Homo sapiens: one gene and its partners. The protein of the gene in region 1 purifies or fractionates together with the protein of each later gene. This does not show direct contact. Each region holds a gene or a part of one and is shown in the gene's direction. Other genes may lie near its edges.

What was found.
Region 2: the proteins of SEPTIN11 (region 1) and MPST fractionate together in Homo sapiens (co-fractionation; one large-scale study listed by BioGRID). This does not show direct contact.
Region 3: the proteins of SEPTIN11 (region 1) and CEP72 purify together in Homo sapiens (affinity purification with mass spectrometry; one large-scale study listed by BioGRID and IntAct). This does not show direct contact.
Region 4: the proteins of SEPTIN11 (region 1) and PEDS1 fractionate together in Homo sapiens (co-fractionation; one large-scale study listed by BioGRID). This does not show direct contact.
Region 5: the proteins of SEPTIN11 (region 1) and WDFY1 purify together in Homo sapiens (affinity purification with mass spectrometry; one large-scale study listed by BioGRID and IntAct). This does not show direct contact.
Region 6: the proteins of SEPTIN11 (region 1) and SUCLG1 fractionate together in Homo sapiens (co-fractionation; one large-scale study listed by BioGRID). This does not show direct contact.
Region 7: the proteins of SEPTIN11 (region 1) and BTBD2 purify together in Homo sapiens (co-immunoprecipitation; one large-scale study listed by IntAct). This does not show direct contact.

The regions. Positions count from the first base shown.
Region 1 is NC_000004.12:77,015,752-77,019,251, forward strand, and holds part of SEPTIN11 (septin-11), read left to right. Parts: exon of another isoform or gene 1-3,413; coding exon 3,414-3,500. UniProt on the Homo sapiens protein: Filament-forming cytoskeletal GTPase. May play a role in cytokinesis. May play a role in the cytoarchitecture of neurons, including dendritic arborization and dendritic spines, and in GABAergic synaptic connectivity.
Region 2 is NC_000022.11:37,022,742-37,026,241, forward strand, and holds part of MPST (3-mercaptopyruvate sulfurtransferase), read left to right. Parts: intron 1-1,010; exon of another isoform or gene 1,011-1,186; intron 1,187-1,450; coding exon 1,451-2,069; intron 2,070-3,500. UniProt on the Homo sapiens protein: Transfer of a sulfur ion to cyanide or to other thiol compounds. Also has weak rhodanese activity. Detoxifies cyanide and is required for thiosulfate biosynthesis. Acts as an antioxidant.
Region 3 is NC_000005.10:615,340-618,839, forward strand, and holds part of CEP72 (centrosomal protein of 72 kDa), read left to right. Parts: intron 1-2,489; exon of another isoform or gene 2,490-2,510; intron 2,511-3,500. UniProt on the Homo sapiens protein: Involved in the recruitment of key centrosomal proteins to the centrosome.
Region 4 is NC_000020.11:50,150,924-50,155,084, reverse strand, and holds the start of PEDS1 (plasmanylethanolamine desaturase 1), read left to right. Parts: upstream 1-1,361; 5' UTR 1,362-1,447; coding exon 1,448-1,568; intron 1,569-3,769; exon of another isoform or gene 3,770-3,873; intron 3,874-4,161. Other genes in the region: PEDS1-UBE2V1 (TMEM189-UBE2V1 fusion protein), read left to right, coding at 1,448-1,568. UniProt on the Homo sapiens protein: Plasmanylethanolamine desaturase involved in plasmalogen biogenesis in the endoplasmic reticulum membrane.
Region 5 is NC_000002.12:223,877,092-223,879,335, reverse strand, and holds part of WDFY1 (WD repeat and FYVE domain-containing protein 1), read left to right. Parts: intron 1-605; coding exon 606-665; 3' UTR 666-2,244. UniProt on the Homo sapiens protein: Positively regulates TLR3- and TLR4-mediated signaling pathways by bridging the interaction between TLR3 or TLR4 and TICAM1.
Region 6 is NC_000002.12:84,431,781-84,435,280, reverse strand, and holds part of SUCLG1 (succinate--CoA ligase [ADP/GDP-forming] subunit alpha, mitochondrial precursor), read left to right. Parts: intron 1-1,845; coding exon 1,846-1,929; intron 1,930-3,500. UniProt on the Homo sapiens protein: Succinyl-CoA synthetase functions in the citric acid cycle (TCA), coupling the hydrolysis of succinyl-CoA to the synthesis of either ATP or GTP and thus represents the only step of substrate-level phosphorylation in the TCA.
Region 7 is NC_000019.10:2,009,215-2,012,714, reverse strand, and holds part of BTBD2 (BTB/POZ domain-containing protein 2), read left to right. Parts: intron 1-3,500.

The DNA.
Region 1 (3,500 bases):
AAAGGCTCTAGAATTGTTGGAAGAATCTGGAAAGCAGATTCTTCCCAGGAAATAGGCATGATGGGGTGTGAAAGGAAGGTTGCCACAAGGGAAAATGGCTAGACTTGTGCAAAAGAATGAATGGACAAAAGATCACCAAGGGGTTTTGGTCCCATTACGAAGTGAGTGTTTAACTAGTAGAGCCACTGAGATGGAAGATACACCTTACTTCTTGGGAAGTAGTGAGTTCCCATCGCCAGTGGTTTGTAGATAACAGACCCTGTTTCAGTCCACTTGGAAGAGATACTGTAGCAGGAATTCTTAAGCAGGATTGAACGTATAATAAGCAAGATCTCTTCCACCTCTAAAATTCTCTGGTTGTGGGTATTGAGAGCTACATAATAATAATAGCACCTGACATTTTTCACATTTCTGGAGCATTTACTATGCACCAGGAACTGTTCAAGACTTTCCATTTAATCCTCACAACAGTTGCATAGGTAGGTGCTGTTATTATTCCTCCCTCATATATGAGGAGACTGCAGCACAGCACCTAAGATTGCATGGCTGTGGGTAGTGGAGGTAGAATTGGAACCCAGGCTTTGGCTGTCAGGCTACACTCTCACCCTGTGTACTGCCGCCCGAGCAGAGCAGTGTACCATCAGCCTCGGCATCCATGGATTTCACCAACCATGGACCAAAGATATTTGGAAAAAAAAAATGCAACAATAAAAACAATAATACAAAATATATATATATATGTGTATATATATAGCATATATATATATTTTGTATTATTGTTTTTATAATATATATAGCATATATATTATATATGCTAAAATATATATATAGCATATATATACACACACATATATATATATACACATATATATATATATACACATATATATATATATATATATATACACATATATATATATATATGGCCAGGCACAGTGGCTCATACCTGTAATCCCAGCACTTTGGAAGGCCGAGGAGGGAGGATCACTTGAGGCCAGGGGCTCAAGACCAGCCTGGTCAACATAGCAAGAAAATAAAAAATAAATTCTACAAAAAAAATTTTTTTAAATAGAGTATAATAACTATTTATATAGTGTTTACATTGTCTTAGATATTATAAGTAATTTAGAGATGATTTAAAGTATACAGGAGGATGTGCATAGGTTATTTGTAAATACTATACCATTTTATATCAGAGATTTGAGCACCTGCAGATTTCAGTGTCCATGGACAGTCCTGGAACCGGTACCCTGTGGATACTGCAGGAGGTCTGTACTTTTTTATAGGAAGGTCAAAATCTCAAACTGAGATGGCACTCCTTTATTCTGCTGTAGAACTGTAATTTGGGATGTCAGTGTGGGATTCAGGAAGTATCATGAATGACTGCTATGTAATTTTTCTTTATATTCCTATCCTTCTAGATAATTTTTCATTATTTTCTAGTCATGGAACTATATCTTTGTTAAACTTATTGGAAATAAAATACCCAAGAATTTTTGCTCTCTTTCTCTCTTTATCAGATTAATAGAACTGAATCTCTGACATTCCAAATTAATCCTGCTCTTTAAAGAAATTTTCTTTTAGGCTCTTCATTACAAACTATTCTTGCTGATCAAATTCCACGTAATGTCTGAGGAAAACAGATTCCACTGGCAGTTGCTTTTGTTACATTTGAGTGGAGAAATTTCCTTGGTCATTACACCAAAATATTGACCAGAAAGGTCCTGTTGCTCCTCAACTTCAGGGGAAACAATAGGGTTCAGGTCTGAAACTCAGACTTGTTTGAGAAAGATAATGTGCTTTCTTTCCTTCTTAGGGTGTGAGATGAACTAGAACATTTCAATATCTTGAGCGTCCAACAAAATGCTACTTGGGCAATCTGAGCCAATGATTATGCCAAGTTCTTTGTAGGAGAGGAATTGGCTTGAAAACTTTATCTTCTTTCTCAGTGTATCTATGGTGGAAGAACACTGGATCAAGGAACTCTAAATAATAATTCTTGGAGCAGCTATTTCAAATCTTATTCTTACATGCTAATAGAAAAAAGATAGGATTATTATTTCCTCCCTCACTCAGAATGCAGTGATAACTACCAAATAAACCAATGTGAAAGAGTCAGTTGTCTTGGACACCATCTCTACTTCAGATAAATCTGGGTGCATAGCTTGAGCCAGTAATTTGGGCTAAAGTGTGTTTCGGACTTAGAAATTTGTGCAATAGTCAACTGTCTAAAGCAGTGTTGTTCAAATAGAACTATAATGTGAGACACACAAGTATTTTAAAATTTTCTAGTAGCTACCTTAAAAAAGTAAAAAGAAATGTGAAATTAATTTTAAGGACTTAACCCAATATGTTGCAAAATATAATTTCAACATGTATTCAATATAAAAATTATTAGATATTTTAGGCTGGGCACGGTGACTCACGCCAGCACTTTCGGAGTAATCCCAGCACTTTCGGAGGCCAAGGCGGGCGGATCACAAGGTCAGGAGATCGAGACCATCCTGGCTAACACGGTGAAACCCCGTTTCTACTAAAAATACAAAAATTAGCTGGGCATGGTGGCCGGTGCCTGTAGTCCCAGCTATTTGGGACGCTGAGGCAGGAGAATGGCGTGAACCCGGAGGGCAGAGCTTGCAGTGAGCCGAGATCGCGCCACTGCACTCCAGCCTGGGCAACAGAGCGAGACTCCATCTCAAAAAAAAAAAAAAAGATATTTTAATGTAGGTCTTTGAGATCCAGTGTATATTTTACAATGACAGCATATCTCATCGTGGACTGAATTTTCACCAAAAATATTTTATCTGTATTTACATTTTGTAAAATTCACAGCTAAAAAGTTAAATTTACATACAGGTTTCTCCTAACATACCTTAAAGATTTTCAATATGAAATAAGTGCCAAAAAGATACTTTATCTTTAATCTTTGTGTCTACCTTGCCATCTACCTTGGTCTTTTTCAGAAGATTTGAGTTTGAAGCAAAGTGAAATGCAGTTTTGCCAAAACAATAAAGTTGCATTTAATTGAAAAATATTTTACGTTGCTTCCATTTTAAATTTAGATGTAAACTAATTAAAAGTTAGATATTCAATTTCTTGTTCCTACAAGCTGTATTTCAGGTGCTCAACAGTCACATATAGTTAGTGGCTACTGCATCGGCTAGCACAAGTCTTAAGCTTACTTTATAGTTGCAAAGACTCATACACTTTTCCCTTGAATCTAGCTCGTGTCTCATACTCAGTGTTTGGTTATAAGGGGGGTGGGATACGTGACATCCACCCACCAAACTGCAGCCTGCTTTTCCCTTGTCACCAAGTAGAGGCCTGCAGAAGGAGGGAGAAGATAGAGACTGGTGGAAACCAGTCTGTCAGAGCAGGGGAAAGTAACTATTCTCTGTCCTTTTGCTTGGCAGGTCCATCTCCCATTTGCAGTGGTTGGCAGCACCGAAGAGGTGAAGATTGGCAACAAGATGGCAAAGGCCAGGCAGTACCCCTGGGGT
Region 2 (3,500 bases), on another chromosome or scaffold:
CACAGATGTTGTTCTCTACCTGCCCCCTTCATTTCGCTGGCAGGACTGCATGCAGTGGGTGTCAAGGTTGGGCCTCACACAGGGGATAAGTGAGGGCTGATCTGCAGCCCATACTCCACACACCCAGCCATGTGCCCTGGTGGGGGCTCAGCCTCTGCCTGGCAGAAGGGGCCCTTTCCTCTCACCTGCACAACGGTGGCTTCCCAGCACAAAGGGCTTAAAGTGTTTGGGAAGTTTACACCCAGGAAGGCTGTGGGCTGGCCTGGCATAGTGGGCTGGCGAGCTGGTGCACTGTCTCTGGTATGCAGGAAAGATAGAGAGGAGAGGGAGGGAGGTGCGAAGTCACTGTTGCTGCTGCTAGAAGGGCCAGAGAGAGCCCAGGCTGGACAGGCAAAACCTGGCCTCGCCAGACTCCTGGAGCCTGCACAGAGTGTGTGTCTGAGAAGTCCGGATTCTGGTGCCAGACTGACTGCCTAGTGAGAAGCCTGGCACCGCCGGGTCAGGCTAGTGCACTTTTTCTTGTTTGTTTTTTGTTTTTGAGACAGAGTTTTGCTCTTGTTCCCCAGGCTGGATTGCAATGGCACGATCTCGGCTCACTGCAACCTCCGCCTCCTGGGTTCAAGCAGTTCTCCTGCCTCAGCCTCCCGAGTAGCTGGGATTACAGGTGCCCTCCACTAAGCCCGGCTAATTTTTTGTATTTTTGGTAGAGACGGGGTTTCACCATGTTGGCCAGACTGGTTTCAAACTTCTGACCTCAGGTGATCCACCTGCCTGGGCCTCCCAAAGTGCTGGGATTACAAGCGTGAGCCACCGCACCAGGCCAGGTTAGTGCACTTCTGTGAGCCTGAGTGTCCTCCTTGAAACGGTGACAATAATATACCAGGCCTCTTAAGATCACTCATTCAACACATACTGGAGAGTCTACTGTGTCAGGCATTGTTCTAGGATATTGTTAGGATTCAGTGGTACCCAGCAAGGACTCAGTAAATTCCAGCTACTGTTCCTATTAGGTCGCCAATATAAATGCTTGATGAGTGAATGAATGACTTCCGTCTGGGACTTGGTTGCAAATAAAGCCGAGCTGCATCTTAGGGAGGGGTGGAGACTTTGCCCCTGTTTGTGCCTTGAAGCCAGCAGGGCCTTGCCCTAGGATACCTCCACCCACCCTCCTGCCCAGCAAGTGGAGGTGAGGGGCGTGGCCTGGGGCTCTCCGGGAGGTCATGGTCATTGGGTCACTCGGAGCTTGTGTTTATATGAGGCCTGGCAGAGGGAGGCCCCTGGCTACCCACCTTTGTGCCCGGGTTCACCACCACTGGTTTCTGCGTTCCCTGGACTCTGCCCTGCACGGGCCGCACCTCCCCCGCCGGCCCTCGCCCATGCTCCAGCCCCAGCCCTAGCCCCAACAGCGGCCTCTCCCTGCTTCCCTTCTGACATCCTCCCTGTCGCCCAGGCCCGCAGCCCGAGTGTCGCCGCCATGGCTTCGCCGCAGCTCTGCCGCGCGCTGGTGTCGGCGCAATGGGTGGCGGAGGCGCTGCGGGCCCCGCGCGCTGGGCAGCCTCTGCAGCTGCTGGACGCCTCCTGGTACCTGCCGAAGCTGGGGCGCGACGCGCGACGCGAGTTCGAGGAGCGCCACATCCCGGGCGCCGCTTTCTTCGACATCGACCAGTGCAGCGACCGCACCTCGCCCTACGACCACATGCTGCCCGGGGCCGAGCATTTCGCGGAGTACGCAGGCCGCCTGGGCGTGGGCGCGGCCACCCACGTCGTGATCTACGACGCCAGCGACCAGGGCCTCTACTCCGCCCCGCGCGTCTGGTGGATGTTCCGCGCCTTCGGCCACCACGCCGTGTCACTGCTTGATGGCGGCCTCCGCCACTGGCTGCGCCAGAACCTCCCGCTCAGCTCCGGCAAGAGCCAACCTGCTCCCGCCGAGTTCCGCGCTCAGCTCGACCCCGCCTTCATCAAGACCTACGAGGACATCAAGGAGAACCTGGAATCCCGGCGCTTCCAGGTGGTGGACTCCCGAGCCACTGGCAGGTTCCGCGGCACCGAGCCCGAGCCCCGAGACGGTAACGCGGGGGAAGGGGGCAGGAGGTCGTCGGGGGCGCGGCCTCTACGCCCTGAGCAGTGCCCTGGACTTGACCTTTCTTTTATTTTTTTAATTTATCTTGCTTTCATTTCCTTTCCTTTTTTCTTTCCTTTCCTTCCCTTTCCCTTCCCTCCTTTCCCCCTTTTCCCTACCCTTGCCTTCTTTTCACAGGGTCTGGCTCTACCGCCCAGGCTGGAGTGCAGTGGCACAATCATGGCTCACTGCAGCCTCAACCTCCTGGGCTCAGGTGACCCTCCCCGCTCAGCCTGACCTTGCCTTTAAAGGCCACTGCATGAGGTGGGGAAGGAGATTTGACTTCCACTTGCCTCGGTGACTTTGTCTGTTAAGCAGAACCATAATACTGGCCCTTCCCCTCCTGTGCTTTGGGCAGTGACTCTCCCTAGCTCATTGGGAACCCTGGTTGCCCAAACAGCTCTCAATCCAACACTAGAGGTGTGGGGGGTCACTGTGGAATGTTGGGGGGCAGGCCCCAGTATGAGAGAAAAACCCAGAGGGATGGTCCTGATCAGGGCTACCCATGCCCCTGAGGATGGTGGAATGAAGGCAGAGTCGGGGGCTGCATAAAGGAAAGTCTCTTCCAGGGACCAAAGCTTGGAGAACTGAGGGTGGAAGGGGGATTAAACAGAAGTGGGTAGGGCAGAGCCTTCTGCCTGTGGGCTGGATTTCCTCAGGCAAGAAGCCTGTGGGTAAGCTCTGTATAATGCGAGGAGGAGTCCCCACAAAGCAGGCTGGTCAGTGGTCACGCTAGTGTGAGTCTTTCAAACATCCCGTGTAAGTAGATACTGTCATTGCACAGAGGAGGAAATGGAACCTGGCCCAAGGTCTCAAGAAACAACCCAGCCGGGATTCAGACTCGGCAGCCTGCGCACTTAACAGCCGTGAGCAACCAGGAACTCCCCAGCCCTTTCTCTTGTGCCTTCAAGAGTGCAAGAAACTGACCACTGCCCCTAGAGAGCTCTCTGAAGAGCATTCCCATGGCTACAGATTGGGTTTGGAGCCGCTTGGGCTCACCATGGGCCAGCATTGTTTTGGATGGCCTGAGGGCAAGGACTGTCCCTGCTCTTCATGCATCCTGAAGATTAGCTCAGTACCTGGCACAGAGTCGATGTTCCAGAGAGGTTTGGTGAATACAGAAGGTCCCTGTTGCATGGAATCCTGCAAAGCAATGTTGGTGTTACCGGAACCATAGGAAACAGCTGATATCCAACCATTTTTGAACCTACACAGGTGTCAGTTTCATGTGGTTCAGCCTAATGAGAGCACCACCTTAATCCTGTTGGGTTCTCCATCTCAGCCCCAGGGGAATGAGCAACACAGGGGAGCTAGCTGGTGGTGCCAGACTGGGGTTCAGATCCCTGCCACATTTACATGGGCTTTGTGACACACGACG
Region 3 (3,500 bases), on another chromosome or scaffold:
TGGCCAGGCTAGTCTCGAACTCCTGACCTCAGGTGATCTCTGCTGGGCTCCCAAAGTGCTGGGATTACAAGTGTGAGCCACGGTGCCTGGGCCTTGTTCCTCTTTTTTCCTGGTAATTTTCTTTGTTGAGACATCTGTCTTATTTGATATTACTGTTGTTACGGTAGCTTCTTTTGATTGGTTTTTGCATGGCGTATCTTTTCCTATCCATTGCTTTGAACTTTTAACCTACCTGTATCTTTATATTTGAAATTAGTTTCCTGGTTCATTATTTTTATTCACTCTGCTAATCTCTGTCTTGTAGTAGTGTTTTAGGCCATTTACATTTAATCTAATTGTTAAATATTAGAACTTAAGTGTGCCATTTTATTGTTTTTTGATTGTTTCCTGTGTTTTTTCTTCTGTTTCCCTTTTCCTGCCTGCTGTGACTTACTCGAATATTTTTAGTATCTCATTTTGATTTATCTGTTATGTTTTGGTGTATATCTCCTTGTATGGTTTTCATAGTGGTGGCTATACAAATTACAATGTATTTATGTAATTCAACACAGTTTACTTGTACAGGTATTTTACTACTTCTAAGTGAAATATAGAAACTTTATCACCATTTAGGTCTCTATCCTCTCCCCTTTACAATTTAGTTGTCTTAAGTATTTCCTCTGCATACCTTGAGAACCGTATTAATATTATGATTTTTTTTAAATACCTAGCCTTTTCAGTAACTCAGGAGGAAACATATTTATCTGCATGTTTATCTGTTCTGTTATTTTTTCTTCATTCCACGATGCTCTAGGTTTCTTTCGTTTTTCCTTTATATTTGAAAAAATTTTTTCAGCAGTTGTCTTAGGGCAGGTCTGCTTGTGACAGATTCTCTTAGTTTTTCTCTACGGTTTTACAGTTTTCATCTGTCATCTCCATTTTGCTATTAAACTGCTCTTGTGATTTTTTGTTATTGTATTTTTCTTTGAAATTTCTATTTGTTTCTTCTTTATATCTCCTGTTTCTTTGCTAAGACTAGTTTTTCCTTTGTCTCAGGTGTTTGTAATTGCTCATTGAAGTATTTTTTATGACAGTCACTTTAAAATCCTTGTTAGACCTAAGTTCTGTGTTCTCTCTTGGTGGTATCTGTTGATTGACTGTGTTTTCTCATTCAAATTGCCATTTTTCTGGTTCTTGGTCATTTTTTATCATATTGTGGACATGCTGGGTATGATGTCATGAGACTCTGCTTCCTGTTTAAATCCCCTTACTTGAGAAGACTCCTCACTCGAGCCTGCTGGGTGCCACCTTGTTGCCGGGACAGTCATGGAGCTCCTGCCTCACCCACGGCCTCTGGCAGACCCTACTGGCTGGGAGAGTGAAGGGCACCACCTCGTTCTAGCCAGGCCGGGACAGCAGTCAGGATCCATTCTCACACCCCGGTGCTGGCTGCTGCGCAAGGCCAGGTGGACGAGGGGTGTGTGTGTGTGTGTGTGTATGTGTGTGTGTGTGTGCGCGCGAGTGGGGGTTTGCTTGCAGGAGGGCTGATGATGTGAAGAGAGTCTGTCCTGCAAGGCCCCTCCTGGTGCCAAGTGGACGAGGGGTGTGTGCGTGTGTGTATGTGTTGTTGTGTGTGTGGGTGGGGGTTTGCTTGCAGGAGGGCTGATGATGTGAACAGTGTGTGTGGTTGCAGGAGGGCTGATGATGTACAGAGAGTCTGTCCTGCCAGGCCCCTCCTGGTCCTTTGGCCATCGAGAGCAGGCTTACGGTTTTTGGTCTTTTTGTGTTTCTGGGCTGCCGACTTCTGTGGCACCCAGAGTGGGATGTGTAGTAAATAAGCATAAACAAAACCCCAGAGTCAAGCCAGGGACTCAGCGCTGGGTTCTCTCTCGAGTGCCGAGGCCCCTGGCTGGTTGGCTTCTGTTCCTTTCAGTCCCCCAATGCTTGTTCCGTATATTTTCCTCCAGGGCAGTGGGTCTAATATGCGGGAGGAGCAGGTTGAAATGTGTCCTCTCCATGTTGCCTGGAACTGGAAGAGCTCAAACCAAATTTTAAACTTAATCAGAACATATTCTGGTTGGGTGTGGTGGCTCATGCCTGTAGTCTTGGGAGGCCGAGGTGGATGGATCACCTGAGGTCAGGAGTTCGAGACCAGCCTGGCCAACATGGTCAGGAAACCACAAGACTGTCACGGAAACCCTTTTCTTTCAGTAACATGAGCCAAAGGTCACTGCACCTTGTCCCCTCCTGACCCTGTCCCGGTGGCAGGGTGTGGGGGACAATGAACTGCTTGTCTGTGTGCCTCCAAGTGGGGCAAAACCAGGCAGCATCCTGCTGTTTAGCTGCACCTGAGACGATGCCTGAGGGCTACCTGAGGAAACAGGGAAACGTGGGGTTTTAGCCGGATGTGGTGGCGTGTCCCTGTAATCCCAGCTACTCAGGAGACTGAGGCGGGAGAATCACTTGAACCTAGGAGGTGGAGGTTGCAGTGAGCCGAGATCGCACCACGGTACTCCAGCATGGGCAACAGAGTAAGACTCCATCTGAAAACAAAAACAAAAAAACCAAAACATATTCTAAAACATAAATGTTCCCAGGAAAGTATTGATGTATTCGGATCTAAACTGCCTTTTTGATTACGGAAACTTTCATCTTGTAATTAATGTTGATGTAGTGACTGCTTATGGGGTGCGTGGAGCTTGCACAGCCCGACCACAGTTGTAACAGGAGGACAGCAGACAGGTTACCCGACGAGTGGGTTTCAGATGGTGATGGCTGCAAGGGGTGACAGAATTGAGCAGCCAGAAGTGGAGGCGGGAGATGAAGTAGAGGGGTGTTCCTGGGGAGAGACGGTTTTGGAGGGAGAGGCAGTAAAGGTGGGAAGAAGCGTGTGGGCTTGGAGGTATTGTAGAGATAAACATAAGCCGAAACTTCAGGTACGTTCCTTGCTCGTCAGTGCTGATATTCCAACTCCAAAGGAGTTGCACTGAGTTCTAGGTGCCTCTTTCAGATTACGAGGATACATATCTCTCTGAGAAAAGCTGAAAATACAGAAATGTGTAAGAGGGAAAATAAAGGGATTTATTCCACAATAGGACACATGTGTTAAAGTTTGTCTTTCAATCTTTTTACATATACTGTTAGAGGAAGAAATGTTTTGAATGACCCTTGTCAGGCACAGTGAGGAAGGCTTTATTCAGAACCATTGAGGTGGGCCTGGGGCCACTGCGCTGGGATTTTGCAGTGGGGGAGAGAGATGGAGCTCAACTCCAAGTACAGCAGGGGCCGGGGGGAGTTTATAGCCTAGGGTCAGGGTGGGGGCAGTGGATGGAAAATGACTGAGAGGACACATGAGGAGTAAGGGGATTTGGGCTAAACCAACTGAACAGGATTATTGCGAAAGAGAGGCCAGGGTGAGCAGACACCACCTATGGGATCTGGGGATGAGGAACCTGAGCAGATACTGAGGGTGGGGGTTTTGGCCGCACTAAACTGGACTTTACAAGGAAGGGCACAGATGG
Region 4 (4,161 bases), on another chromosome or scaffold:
CCTCTGTCGCCCAGGCTGGAGTGCAGTGGCGCGATCTCGGCTCACTGCAAGCTCCGCCTCCCGGGTTCACGCCATTCTCCTGTCTCAGCCTCCCGAGTAGCTGGGACTACAGGCGCCCGCCACCGCGCCCAGCTAATTTTTTGTATTTTTAGTAGAGACGGGGTTTCACCGTGTTAGCCAGGATGGTCTCGATCTCCTGACCTCATGATCCGCCCGCCTTGGCCTCCCAAAGTGCTGGGATTACCGGCGTGAGCCACCGCGCCCGGCTGCCTGTATGGAATTTCTATGAGAAATTATTGCATACTTTGTTGTCGGTTAGACCTGGGGTAAATCCCTGCTGCTGTCATTTATCTGCCGAAGTATTAGACGCATCTGGCTGAGCCTTAATTCATTCATCAAGCATTTATTGAGCTTCTACCATGTTCCAGCCCCGATCCTGGCACGGGGGCCCTGCTGTAAACAAAGCTGTTCTCTGCCCTCAGGAGCTTGCTCTCTGATAGGAGAGACAGGGACTGCAAGCTCAATCCCCACCAGAAGCGCTGTGAAGACAAAACAGGGTGATGTCACAGTGACTGGAGGAGGGGGCACCTTTGAGCAGGGTGGTGGTGGTGGGGCTCTCTGAGGAGGCAATACCATTGGTGTTTAAGAGTCAAATAAATGTTGCTCGTCTAGCTCTTGGTCCAGCACCTGACAGATATTAAGCGCTCAGCAAATCTCATAGTGACCCTAGTTGTCATTTTCATTAGTTTACTGTCCTCGCCACCGGGAGAACATGAGCTGGGGAGGATGCGGGGCAGGCTCGACGTTTCTCCTCTTTGGGCGCACAGCACAGAGCTGGCACACAGCTGATGAACACATGGCACCCGAAACCTCTGCACACAGTAGGGCTTGATAAACCAGCCCACTCTCCATCGGCCTCGCTAGGGAGCATCGTACAGAGCACCCGCCAAATGCTTCCTGGCCTCGGCCCCAGCCCGGCGCCCTGCCCTCGCGTTCCTTGCACACAGTGGGCGCTTAACGCTGCCGGCTCAAGAAATGCCCATTTCTGGGCCCTGCCTCGGCCCATTGCATGGGCCCGTGAACCGAAGCCTAGCTGGGCGGCGACGCGCCGCGAGCTCCCAGTGGGCTGGAGCCGGGAGCCCTGCCGGGGCTGAGCTGGGAAGGCGGGCACGCGCCTCCGCCCCAAGCTTCCGCGCCCAGCTGCGTCCAGCTGCGTCCCAGCCTCCGGCTCGCGGCGGTTGGCTGCGGCTCAGCGACGTCCGATTGGCCTGCGCGGCTCCGGCGCGAGCCCCGATTGGCTGTGACGCGCGGCCGGGCGAGGACCCCGCCCGCGCCGCCGCCGCGCCCGGCGCTGGGCGGTCATTGGGCGGCGTGATCTCGCCGCGGTTCCGCGGCCCTGCCGCCGCCGCCGCCAGCAGAGCGCACCGGGCCGATCGGGCGAGTGGCCATGGCGGGCGCCGAGAACTGGCCGGGCCAGCAGCTGGAGCTGGACGAGGACGAGGCGTCTTGTTGCCGCTGGGGCGCGCAGCACGCCGGGGCCCGCGAGCTGGCTGCGCTCTACTCGCCAGGTAAGACCTCTGGGCCCCCCTCCAGGCCTGCGGTCACCAGCCCCGGCTGCGGACAGCGACCCCAGACTGGAGTCCCAACCTCGGGCCCAGATGCGGAACTCCAGCCCGGGTGTCTAACTTGCAAATAGCAAGTTCGGGGACCCCACCCCAGTGTCCCTTCCGAACCCAAGCCAGAACCTTGGCCCCGGGGTTTCCTGGCTGCAGAGACACTCCCCAGATCAAGAAATTACCATGAGCTCCCTGGGCGACAAACGGAGCTCCCATCGGACCCGCAGATACGGAATCCTAGCCCCGGGGCATTCTCGGTTGTGAAGAGTGCTCCTAGACTTAGAACCCCACCCCCTCATCCCCCCAGGACCCGGTCCAAGCCCAAAGCTGCCCTTCAGCTGTAAGCACTGCCCTCAGGCCCCTAAAAGTCACACCTCATCCTGGGTTCCCCAGATCTGGAATCTACATCCTAGTACCTCCTCTGTGCCCTAGCCCAGGCCCTGGGCTGCAAACAATGACCTCACCTCCCTAACCTGGGAATGTCAGCCCCTCTGCCCAGGGAACCCTAACTCAGGGGCTTCCAGCTGCACGGTACCCCCCACACCCTTCCCCCAAAACCCCATCCTAGTGATAGCTTCAGTGGCTACAGACCGATATCCTCTCCCCAACCCTCCAGTGGTGAGCATCAGTCCTTGCCCCATATTCCTGGATCCCAGGCAGTGAGGGGACTGAATGTACCCCACTGTAAGCTCCCCTGTACATAAGCCCCAACTCTAGCTCTTGCCCCTCCCTCACATCCATGTATTGGCCCCTTCCTTAGGACTTGGGACTGGAACCCCCATATTCCCCAGACCAGATCATAAGTTGGAGTTCACCTCTCCCTCTCTGTCCCTTTCCCTCAGGCCACGGTTTCTCCCTAGCTTCTTCCTGCTTTGCTCACTGTATATGCTCCAGCAAGCACCCCCCCTACACCCACTTTTGTGACTCCTACGTGAGCCCTAGGAATTTTACTGTTTGGCCTCAGGAGGGCCCTATATCCCCAGGAGTTAAGGAAGTGCCTTTGAGAACTCCTGGTTCAGGTGACTGGGAGGCACCTCTACCTGGGTGTCACCATGGAATGAAGCTTTGTTTGTCAAATATCCTGACATCCTTCCTTTTTCTGTGGGGCAGCCACCAAGCACCACATGCAGCCCTTGCCTGGAGTGGGCCTGGGGTCACTAGCACCTTAGCTTTCTGCCCTCACTGGCCTGGGTTCCATGCCGTCTCTTCCTTAAAAGGCGGCATGGCCACGGACCATTTGCATTTCCTCACTGGGTCCTAGACCACTCCATTCTCTGTATGTGATTTTTCACACCTGACTTGGGCACCTGGTCCATGCCGCTATGGTTTCTTCAGGCCTATACCCAAGACACCCAGCCTATGGACTTAAAACCTCCTGCTCTCCTGGGGGTAGGCCAGGGTTAACATCCTGACTCTGTTATTCAGCTGTATGACCTGGTCCAAGCCACTTTCCGTCTCTGTTTCCCCTTGGTTTCCTTGCAAGTTAAAGTTTATCTGCCCCTTCGTGTTAGGAAGTGGAAATGAGATCGTCCACTGGCATTCAGTAGGCACTCCCTGTTGTTGTGTGGGTTTTTTTGTTGTTTTTTGTTTTGTTTTGTTTTATTTGTTTTGAGATGGAGTCTCACTCTGTTGCCCAGGCTGGAGTGCAGTGGCGTGATCTCGGCTCACTGCAAGCTCCTCCTCCCGGGTTCACGCCATTCTCCTGCCTCAGCCTCCTGAGTAGCTGGGACTACAGGCGCCCGCCACCATGCCCGGCTAATTTTCTGTATTTTCAGTAGAGATGGGGTTTCACTGTGTTAGCCAGGGTGGTCTCGATCTCTTGACCTTGTGATCCGCCCACCTCGGCCTCCCACAGTGCTGGGATTACAGGCGTGAGCCACTGTGCCTGGCGCCTCCCTGTTGTTAACAGTAGTCTGACCTTTGCTGTGGGGGATCCGCCTCACCTCTCTGGTCCTCAAACTCCCCACCTGGGAATTGGGGATAAGGATTCAAGGGCCTCCCTCTTTAGTGTCCAGCTCTGCCTGCTCCTGTGAACCCTACCTACTTTCAGACAGCCCAAATCATTCCCAGGCATTCTGAGCCTCCCCAGGGATTGCTGTTTCCCCACTCCACCACGATCAATTGCATATTTGTCCATTTCTGGTTTCCCCAAGTGCCCTTCACTCTCTGAAGAACAGCCATGCCTGAATCAGAGTCTGCAGACAGCCTGGTGCCCCAAATCTGCAATCAAGGCCCTTTATCTCCTCCAGACCTGGAGGTAGGGGAGGAGACTTGCCAAACTGGTTTCTCCAACTTCCTTTCCACTGGCCTCTCTGCTTCTATCTGCTCACTGTGTGATCTTGGGGAAGTATTTGACCTCTCTGGGCCTGAAAAAGTGAGAGACCAGGCTCAGTGCATATTGAACACCTATGTTCTAGTCCATGTTCTAGGCTCTGGGGGCAGAATGGTGAACAAGACAGAAAAAAATGGAGCTGGCCGGGCGCGGTGGCTCACACCCGTAATCCTAGCACTTTGGGAGGCCGAGGTGGGTGGATCACTTGAGGTC
Region 5 (2,244 bases), on another chromosome or scaffold:
TATTCCTGATGGGCTTTTCTAAAAAAAAAATTGAATTTATACTAAAACATTATTATGATTTAATTTTTATGTGTAAAGACACTACCTATATGCTTTATTCACATTTTAGTGAACTACATTGTTTTATCTTTCTGAAAATCTTTTTGTTTGAGACAAGGTCTCGCTCTGTCACCCAGACTGTAGTGTAGTGGTGTGACCTCGGTTCAGTGCAACCTCTGCCTTCTGGGCTCAGGTGATCCTCCCACCTCAGCCTCTTGAGTGGCTGGGACCACAGGCATGTGCCACCACACCAGGCTAATTTCTGTATTTTTTTTGGTAGAGACAAGGTTTTGCCACGTTGGCCAGGCTGGTCTTGAACTCCTGGGCTCAAGTGCTACACCCGCCTCGGTCTCCCAAAGTGTTGGGATTACAGGCGTGAGCCACCGTGCCCAGCCACCTGGCCTCTTTCTATAAATCTTAAGGAGGTGTTATGAAAGAGGAGAATGAGAAAATTCATTAATTTGACACCTTTTCAGGTTTAACAGTCGTTTGTTTGTCTGTGTTGACTCTTGCCGTTAGACCTGGTTATCACTGCTGCCTTTTCTGCGTTTCTTCCTTCCTTGTAGATCTGGGACATGACACCTGTGGTGGGCTGCAGTCTGGCGACTGGGTTTTCTCCGCACTGATCTGAGAGCTGGGCGGCGTCCACACCTAAGAACAGCAGCTCCACCAAATGAAGTCCCTCTCACGCAGCTCCACAGCGCTGTCTCGTGAATGGACAGTAGCCACTTACAAACAAATCAACATTTTTAAAAAGAAAATGTAAAGGTGTGTTTTGGGGCATTTGTGGAACTTACCCATGGGGACTAATATGGAAAAGGTCTGTCCATAGTGGTTCCCTGAAGACTGGAATTACTTCAGCAAAACTTCCCCATGAACAGCTAATGTGTAGTGAAAGAATGAGCTAGCAAATGAGTTTTAGCGGGGACAAAAAATCAAACAAAAAAGTGAATGCTTAGAACCTTCTCAAAGCAGTCACAAGTACAGACACTTCACTTAGCCTAGGGGGCCTTCCAGGGTTCTTGTGGCTGTTGTCAGAGCAGGAGCTGGGGGAGGGAAGACTTGTTCTCTCTTTCTTGAGGGGTGGCATTAGGAACTTACGAAACCAGAGACCTTTCCCTATGACTTGGCAGTATGTGAATATCCTCTACACTTAGTTATTGATAAACTTCTTAAAGAGATCTGTTATTTTCAGGTAGTGCCATAATCTGCACTTAGCATTGGCTTGCTTCAGTTGTTTCTCTTCCCAGCCAGTATGCCACAGGTGAACTTTCGGGGTTGTCATTAAGTAAGTTGTGAAATTTCTGTAATAACAAAGGCAGTCCGCATTCTTCCCTTTCCCCCAAATTCCTAGGGCAAAACTTTTTTATGGTGCTGTTAACATGGGAGTCACACAAGCCGCCTGACTTTTTCTCATTGCCATTAGTAATGACTGATGGAAAACCCAGCCACCACTGTGATGCGAAATGATCAGTCTGTTGCCTGAAACAGCCCAGTCCTCTTAACTGAAACAGCATTCTACTTCTTGTTCCAAGATGAGCCTCTGCAATATTCTGGCAATTTAATATACCCCCTACAAAAGCACTCCACAGCTTTTACACTATTTTGACTTTGAGTTATAACTAGTATTATTCATGTTTTCATAAAAAGAAGTTAGTGACCCAGAGCTATAATCATCCATCAAGTCTTCCACAATAATTCCCAACTCATAAATTGCTTTCCTAACAACTAGCAAAAGCTATTGTTCATAATGGCATTTCTAAAGCTTTTGGGCACTGTGTACCAGGATGAGGAAGAGAAGAAATGAGGAGCCTGTCTTTTAATATTCCAGTATTTGTGTGTTTGATTTTTTTTGACAACAGTACATATATCTATTTCTCTAGGGATATGGAAGTAAGTGGAGAAGGGCCTACCTTTTTAAAGGACAAATATAAAAATAGCAACAGTATCTTTGCTAATCTTACTAATAGATATTGATTAAAAAAAAAAAACCTCAGTACTGCATCACTGTGTTGGGATCATACCAGGACAATAGGGTCATTCCATATGATAAAACTAAAGGACTAAATTTGTTTTATAATGATGTCTTAGAGGGACTGAAAGGTTTAAGGAGGCGATCAAACTAAAATGTCTTAATGGCTGTGTGACACACGTAAGGAAAGGAAAGGGGGTCACGCACATCATGTACTGGAATGATCTGCATTA
Region 6 (3,500 bases), on another chromosome or scaffold:
CAGGAAAGACCTCAAAGAGAAAGTAGCATTTAATGTGGACCTTGAAGGATGATTAGAAGTTTTGTCAGATGGTGGAGGTGAAACACTCCATCTTAAGCAGAACAAATATGAAAAGATAGGAGAGCATGAAATATCAATGAGGAATAACCCAGTTTCACTAGGTAGGGAAATAGTAAGAAACAAGTCTGGAGAGGGAAGCTGGGACTCTGCTGGGCTGGCGAGTTAGAGCAGAGTTCCACGTGAAGTGAGGCATCGTCGAGGATTTAGTTGTCACTGTCTAGTGAAATGCATCTAAAAGAGCAATCTGACAGTGTTCTGTAGGGTCTGCTTAGCAATGACTAAGTTACGTACACACCATTCTTTGAATTTGACTTTGAATTTGGTATGTAGAACCTGAAGTTATTGTGTGCCCAAATTCATAGTGAGAAGATGTGTTTATGCATAGGTCACACACTTAGTACGCATTAGTATACAATAATGGTGACATAGCACTTTGTTTAAGAGTGTAAACATGTAGCACGGAAGTTGAGGTAACTTATAGTTATGGTTTTTGTCTCAGGTTGACAAGAATTCTACCTGCCCTGGTAGGGTGATCATATTGTTAGAAAAGGGTCTTCTGAGTTCTTCAGAGTTGCTCCAAGGCAGGAGTTTAAGGAAAGTAAACCATGGACACCCTGGATTAATTTTTTTGTTTGTCTAAAGTATTACATAGATTGTGGCTTTGAATAAATTACCTTTCTGGAAGCTCAGCCAAGCATAGTAAACTACAAGAGAAGACATCTAACTGTCACTCCTCCCTGGCCCCCACTGGCTCTCCTCCCTCGGCGCACACCTAATCCAGATGTGAAATTAAGTGCTTTCACACAGGTCCATTTATAAAGGAAATTAGGTGGGAGACTTGATTCCAGAGGGATCTTGACCTTATTCCCCAGTTTTCTTTATATTGATTTTAAAGCCTATATATTGGTTGAAAATCATTGGGAAAATAGTTGTGGAGAAGATAGGTAGTATTTTAAAATGTGACTAATGCTAGTTTTGATGGTTTAATAGTTTGGGTACTGTATTATTCTGTTTTATATTGCTACAAAGGAATATCTGAGCCTGGATGATTTATAAGTAAAAGAGATTTGTTTGGCTTATGATTCTGCAGGCTATACATGCATGGTGCTAGCATCTGTTCAGCTTCTGGTGAGGCCTCAGGAATCTTTTACTCATGGCAGAAGGTGAAGGGGGAGTAGACGTGTCACATGGTGAGAGAGGGAATGAGAGAGGCCAGGATCTTTTCAAGAACCAGCTCTCATGTAAAGGAACAGAGTGAGAACTCACTCATTACCATGGAGAGGTCACTAAGCCATTCATGAAGGATCTATCCCCATGACCCAAACACCTCCCACCGGGCCCCACCTCCAACACTGGGCATCACATTTCAACCTGAGATTTGGAGGGGACAAATACCCAGACTACATAAGGTAGTATAAGTCTAATCTATTACATTCTGCCACTGTAGGTATGATTAGTACCTACCAAATTTATACTGATACTAGCTTCTTCATAAAGATTCTCAGAAGAGGTAATTTAAGTCTTTCTTGCATTGTTTTTATAGTCATAAAATAACCTTAACTAATAATATACTTTCTCCTTTGTCTAAATTAAAAAACCCCCCTGCTTGAATTTAAGCCTTTCCTTTTCATTTCATCGTTTGAAGATACTATTGATTTTGATGGCAAATCATGGAATGAATTTTATACCTATGTTAGTCACTCGAAGTGTTTGGTAATTTAGTTTACCATGTTTTAGTCTAACATAGAAACACAATCTAATATTTTTGAATTCTCTTTCGTTAAGGCATTGTGTCCAGATCTGGCACCCTGACTTATGAAGCAGTTCACCAAACAACGCAAGTTGGATTGGGGCAGTCTTTGTGCGTTGGTGAGGGACTTTTGCTAAAATCATTTTATTGGAGTGTGGTGTCTTCATTGGATGAGTATAATAATAATTATTGATTTTATTATTTGCAAAAGATTTTGATACTCTTATGAAAAGGATGTTACGATCTCAAATTTAATTTGCTTAAGTGTAAAGTTATTCTGTAGTTGTTTCAAGATTCATGGTCCAAGATTTCATTTCTAGGTTGAAGAACTAACATCTTGGAACACGTGGCTCCCGAAGCACCTTGGTGCCTGAAAACATCACTTGGTTTGATTGCTCTGAAGAAATGGTTCCTTATATTAGGACTTTTGTTATCATTGCCATTATGTTCATCAGTGCTTTATAGTTACTGAATTCTTTGCCATTCAGTGTCTCATTCTTGAGGGAAGCCTCTCAGGTGCCTCTGAGCTGGAAAATTGTACTGTTAGAGCCTTATTGGTGAGAAAGTCAAGGTTGAGGAAGGTTCATTTCCTCAGAACCTCTCTTTTTATCACACTATACTGCCTCCCATTTGAAAAAGTAAAAATTACAAATTTTTACATTTTAAAATAATTTCATTATTTGTTGCCAAAAGCCAAGGCAAATTCCTCCTTTTCATATTAATAAATATTCTTTCAAGTTCTTAGAATACCTGTTAATGTTTTAGAATTATCTTTACGAAAAAGTAACATATAGCTCTGGAGTGTTTTTATTAAGATTCAAATTCATAAATTAAATATTGAAAACATTAATTGAGCATTTGTACATGCAAAGCACAATATAAGTGGAAGATACTTTTTAGTGTGACAGAGAATAAGAAAAGGTTTGAAACAGGCTTACCGATTCCTTCTTTTCCAGCTTCAGTTTTGAATTTGTAAGTGGAGGATAATAATGCCTATCTCACAGAGAAGTTGAGAAAATTAGGAAATGACAGATCTAACGTGTGCCAAAGCATAGGACTTGACACACGGTTGGCACTTAATAAATGCCGGTTCTCTTCTTCCACTCCATTTTTCAGAGATGCAGTGAAAAGAAAGAAATCAATCCTGCCCTCAGTAAGTTTGTAATTTAAAAATAAAAAACGGCAGCCTGTCTGTAGGGAACATTTACTTTAACCCTGTCCATGAATTTGTTCTTAAATGTGGTGTGTAGTATGGCTCTGATATGCATGCTCTGTCATCATCCACTCTGGATCCAGAACACGAGCAGTCAGGGTACTCACTGTCACTCACTGGCACTTGTGTCTTAAAACTTGTGGGTGATTTATCTGCAGCATACTTCATCAAATAGTTTCTTTACTCAAAGAAATTTGTTAAATGTTTATTCTTTCCTCTGGTGTAACATCAGCATGCAACACAGATACACATTTTCTTAAAATGTTCATTTCTAAGGAGTTATCTGGGAATAATTTTGTGGGACAGAAGAGGCTTGATAAAGGAGCTAAAACAAAAAGAGGGTTGTCTTCGTTACAGCCCTAGAATATTCCTAGAATATCAGGAACCAACCACCATTTAGCATTTATATAATATTACCAACAGAAATAAATGTAGCATTTTGTGATTTTTTAAATATTAAATGCAAGAGCAATGATA
Region 7 (3,500 bases), on another chromosome or scaffold:
AGGAGAGGGCAATGAGGCCCAGCGGGAGATAGCAGCAAGGTAAGGTGGGCGGGCCTGGGACAGCGGACCCTCGACATGCGGGGTTAGGGGCGTGGACCCCCACTCAGCTCAAATCCAAGTACAACTTTTGACTCCCACGAACTTAACTAGGAATGGCTTCTCGCTGACCGGAGGCCTTGTGAGGACACTTGGTCAATGCACACCAGCCTCCTGTTCTCACAATAACAGGCTGGAGAACAGAAAATACATTCAGAAAAGTCTAAGGGGCCGGGTGCGGGGGCGCACGCCTGGAATCCCAGCACTTTGGGAGGCCGAGGCGGGCAGATCACGAGGTCGGGAGATCGAGACCAGCCTGGTCAACACGGTGAAACCCTGTCTCTACAAAAATACAAAAATTAGCCGGGCGTGGTGGCGCACACCTGTAATCCCAGCTACTCAGGAGGCTGAGGCAGGAGAATCTCGTGAACCCAGGAGGTGGAGGTTGCAGGGAACCGAGATTGCGCCATTGCACTCCAGCCCAGGCGACACAGTGACACACCATCTCAAAAAAAATAAAGGACAGGCTGGGCGCGGTGGCTCACGCCTGTAATCCCAGCACTTTGGGAGGCCGAGGCGGGCGAATCATGAGGTCAGGAGTTTGAGACCATCCTGGCCAACGTGGTGAAACACCGTCTCTACTAAAAATACAAAAAATTAGCCGGGTGTGGTGGTGCACAACTGTAGTCCCAGCTACTTGGGAGGCTGAGGCAGGAGAATCACTTGAACCCGGGAGGCGGAGGTTGCAGTGAGCCGAGGTTGCGCTACTGCACTCCAGCCTGGGCGACAGAGCAAGACTCTGTCTCAAAAAAAAAAGGAAAAAAAATAAAAGGAGAAATCCTGTTTGCTGTTCACACAGTGGAGGTGGCCACGATGAAGGCCTGTGTCCTTGTGTTCATATTGAGGGCTGAGGAGCAGGAGCAGGAGGGTGGGTCTGTCTCCGGGGTGGCAGAGGTGGAAGGGGAGGCAGGAGAGGCCGGCACCGTTGGGGCAGCCTTTATTGAAAAAATTCACATATGAGTGGACCTGTGCAGTTGAAGCCTGCCTTGTTGAAAGGTCATCTGTGTTTCCTTAGCATTTCAGGAGGGTTGAAAATGGAGAGGGGGCACTGACCTGGTCCAGAACGACCCCCTGAGCAAGTGATGTTGATGGAGAGTGCAGTGCCCCAGGCTCAGGGATGGAAGGCCCAGAGCCCAGAGGGGCTGGGCAGGTGGGAGCCATGGCAAGGCCGGAGCAGGAGGAGTGAGGGAGGCCCTGTGGCCCAGTGTGACCAGATCCGCATTGAGGGTGGAACGCGCCGTGGATGGGCCCAGGAGCGAGGCTGGGGAGTAGCAGCTGCAGACTCCAGGCAGGAGACAGCAGCGGGCTCGGTGGGGACGGCAGAAATGAGGGGTAGAGGATGCAGGTCCTCTTTGGAGGAAGCGAGTTCCTGTGGCCAGGAGAGGAGGCAGCTTGGCAGGTGAGGGCGTGGGGGGCTGTGGTGGGGGTCCCCAGACTTCTGGCTGGAGCATCACAAGCCAGGACAGGCTCAGGAGGGACAAGTACTGGCTTGGATGTGTTGGCGGGACCTGGGGCTGAGAGGTCCGCAGAGCAGTGTGTCCCAAGTGCTCTGTGCCTCAGTTTCCATGATTGAAACAAGGTCACTCAGACACATCTGTCCTGGGGCTGTGGGAACAAACGGACCCGATGGGTTGCTGACAGCCACAGGCCACACAGCAGAGAGAAAGAAAACAGCAGCTGAGGCCGGGCGCAGTGGCTCACGCCTATCATCCCAGCACTTCGGGAGGCCGAGATGGGCAGACATCTGAGGTCAGGGGTTTGAGACCAGCCTGGCCATCGTGGCAAAACCCCGTCTCTACTAAAAATACACAAATAAGCTGGGCGCGGTGGCACGCACCTGTAATCCCAGCTACTCAGAGTCTGAGGCAGGAGGATGGCTTGAATCCGGAAGGCAGAAATTGCAGTGAGCCAAGATTGCGCCACTGCACTCCAGCCTGGGTGACAGGGCGAGACTCCGTCTCAAAAAAAAAAAAAAGGTGGGGGGATGTCGGGACGAACTGGGGGTGCTGGGATAAAGTCTGGAGTTCACCGATGAGCAGAGAGGGGCCGGGCCTTGCCAGCTGTGAGGAGAGCAAGTGGCCTGGGCTTGGGCCTGGTCCCTGGCGGGGGTGCAGGGTGAGCTGAGACATGGCAGAGAGGAGGCTGGGAGCAGGCCTTGGTGGTGGCCCCAGTGTCTGGACCGTCGCGCAGGGGTCGGCGTTTGTGCTGGGGAGGAGGCCAGGGGTTGCACGCGGCTTCTGGGCTGTTCCCCGGTCCTGGATGGGCACCCGTCCATCTCAGCGCGCTGGAGCCTGGCACACAGTAGGCACGCAGTGATTGTGCATTGAATGATCTGTGGGAATTAAACATCTGATTCTCTCATGGGGCTTGAAGGGAGAACTGAAGATCTCCAGGGTTGCACTTTTGTAGATGTGCACATTGGCTGGTCCCATGAAGTTAGTATCTAAAATACCTTTTTCTTTTTTTTGAGACGGAGTCTCGCTCTGTTGCCCAGGCTGGAGTCCAGTGGCGCGATCTCCGCTCACTGCAAGCTCCGCCTCCCAGGTTCATGCCATTCTCCTGCCTCAGCCTCCCGAGTAGCTGGGACTACAGGCACCCGCCACCACACTTGGCTAATTGTATTTTTTAGTAGAGACGGGGTTTCACCATGTTAGCCGGGCTAGTCTCAAACTCCCGACCTCAGGTGATCCGCCCACCTCGGCCTCCCAAAGTGCTGGGATTACAGGCGTGAGCCACCGCACCTGGCCTCCCCTCCTTTTTTGTTTTTTTGAGACAGAATCTTGCTCTATTGCCCAGGCTGGGGTACAGTGGCGTGATCTCCGCATGCTGCAGCCTTCAGCTCCCTGGCTCAAGCAATTCTCCTGTCTCAGCCTTCTGAGTAGCTGGGATTACAGGTGTGCGCCACCACGCCCAGCTAATTTTTGTATTTTTAGTAGAGACAGTATTTCCGTCATGTTGCCCAGGGTGATGGTGAACTCCTGAGCTCAGGTGATCCACCCACCTCGGCCTCCCAAAGTGCTGGGATTCCAGGTGTGAGCCACCGCGCCCAGCCTAACGTATCTTTATTCACTCTATCATGGAACTGTCAGCATTGTAGCGAGGTCTAGAAGTAGAACAATCTGGGTGGGTGTGGTGGCTCACGCCTGTAATCCCAGCACTTTGGGAGGCCGAGTCAGGCGGATCACGAGGTCAGGAATTTGAGACCAGCCTGGACAACATGGTGAAACCCCGTCTCTACTAAAAATACAAAAAATTAGCCTGGTGTGGCGGTGGGCACCTGTAATCCCAGCTACTTGGGAGGCTGAGGCAGGAGAATTGCTTGAACCCGGGAGGCGGAGGTTGCAGTGAGCCAAGATCACGCCACCACACTCCAACCTGGGTGACAGACTGAGACTCCGCCTCAA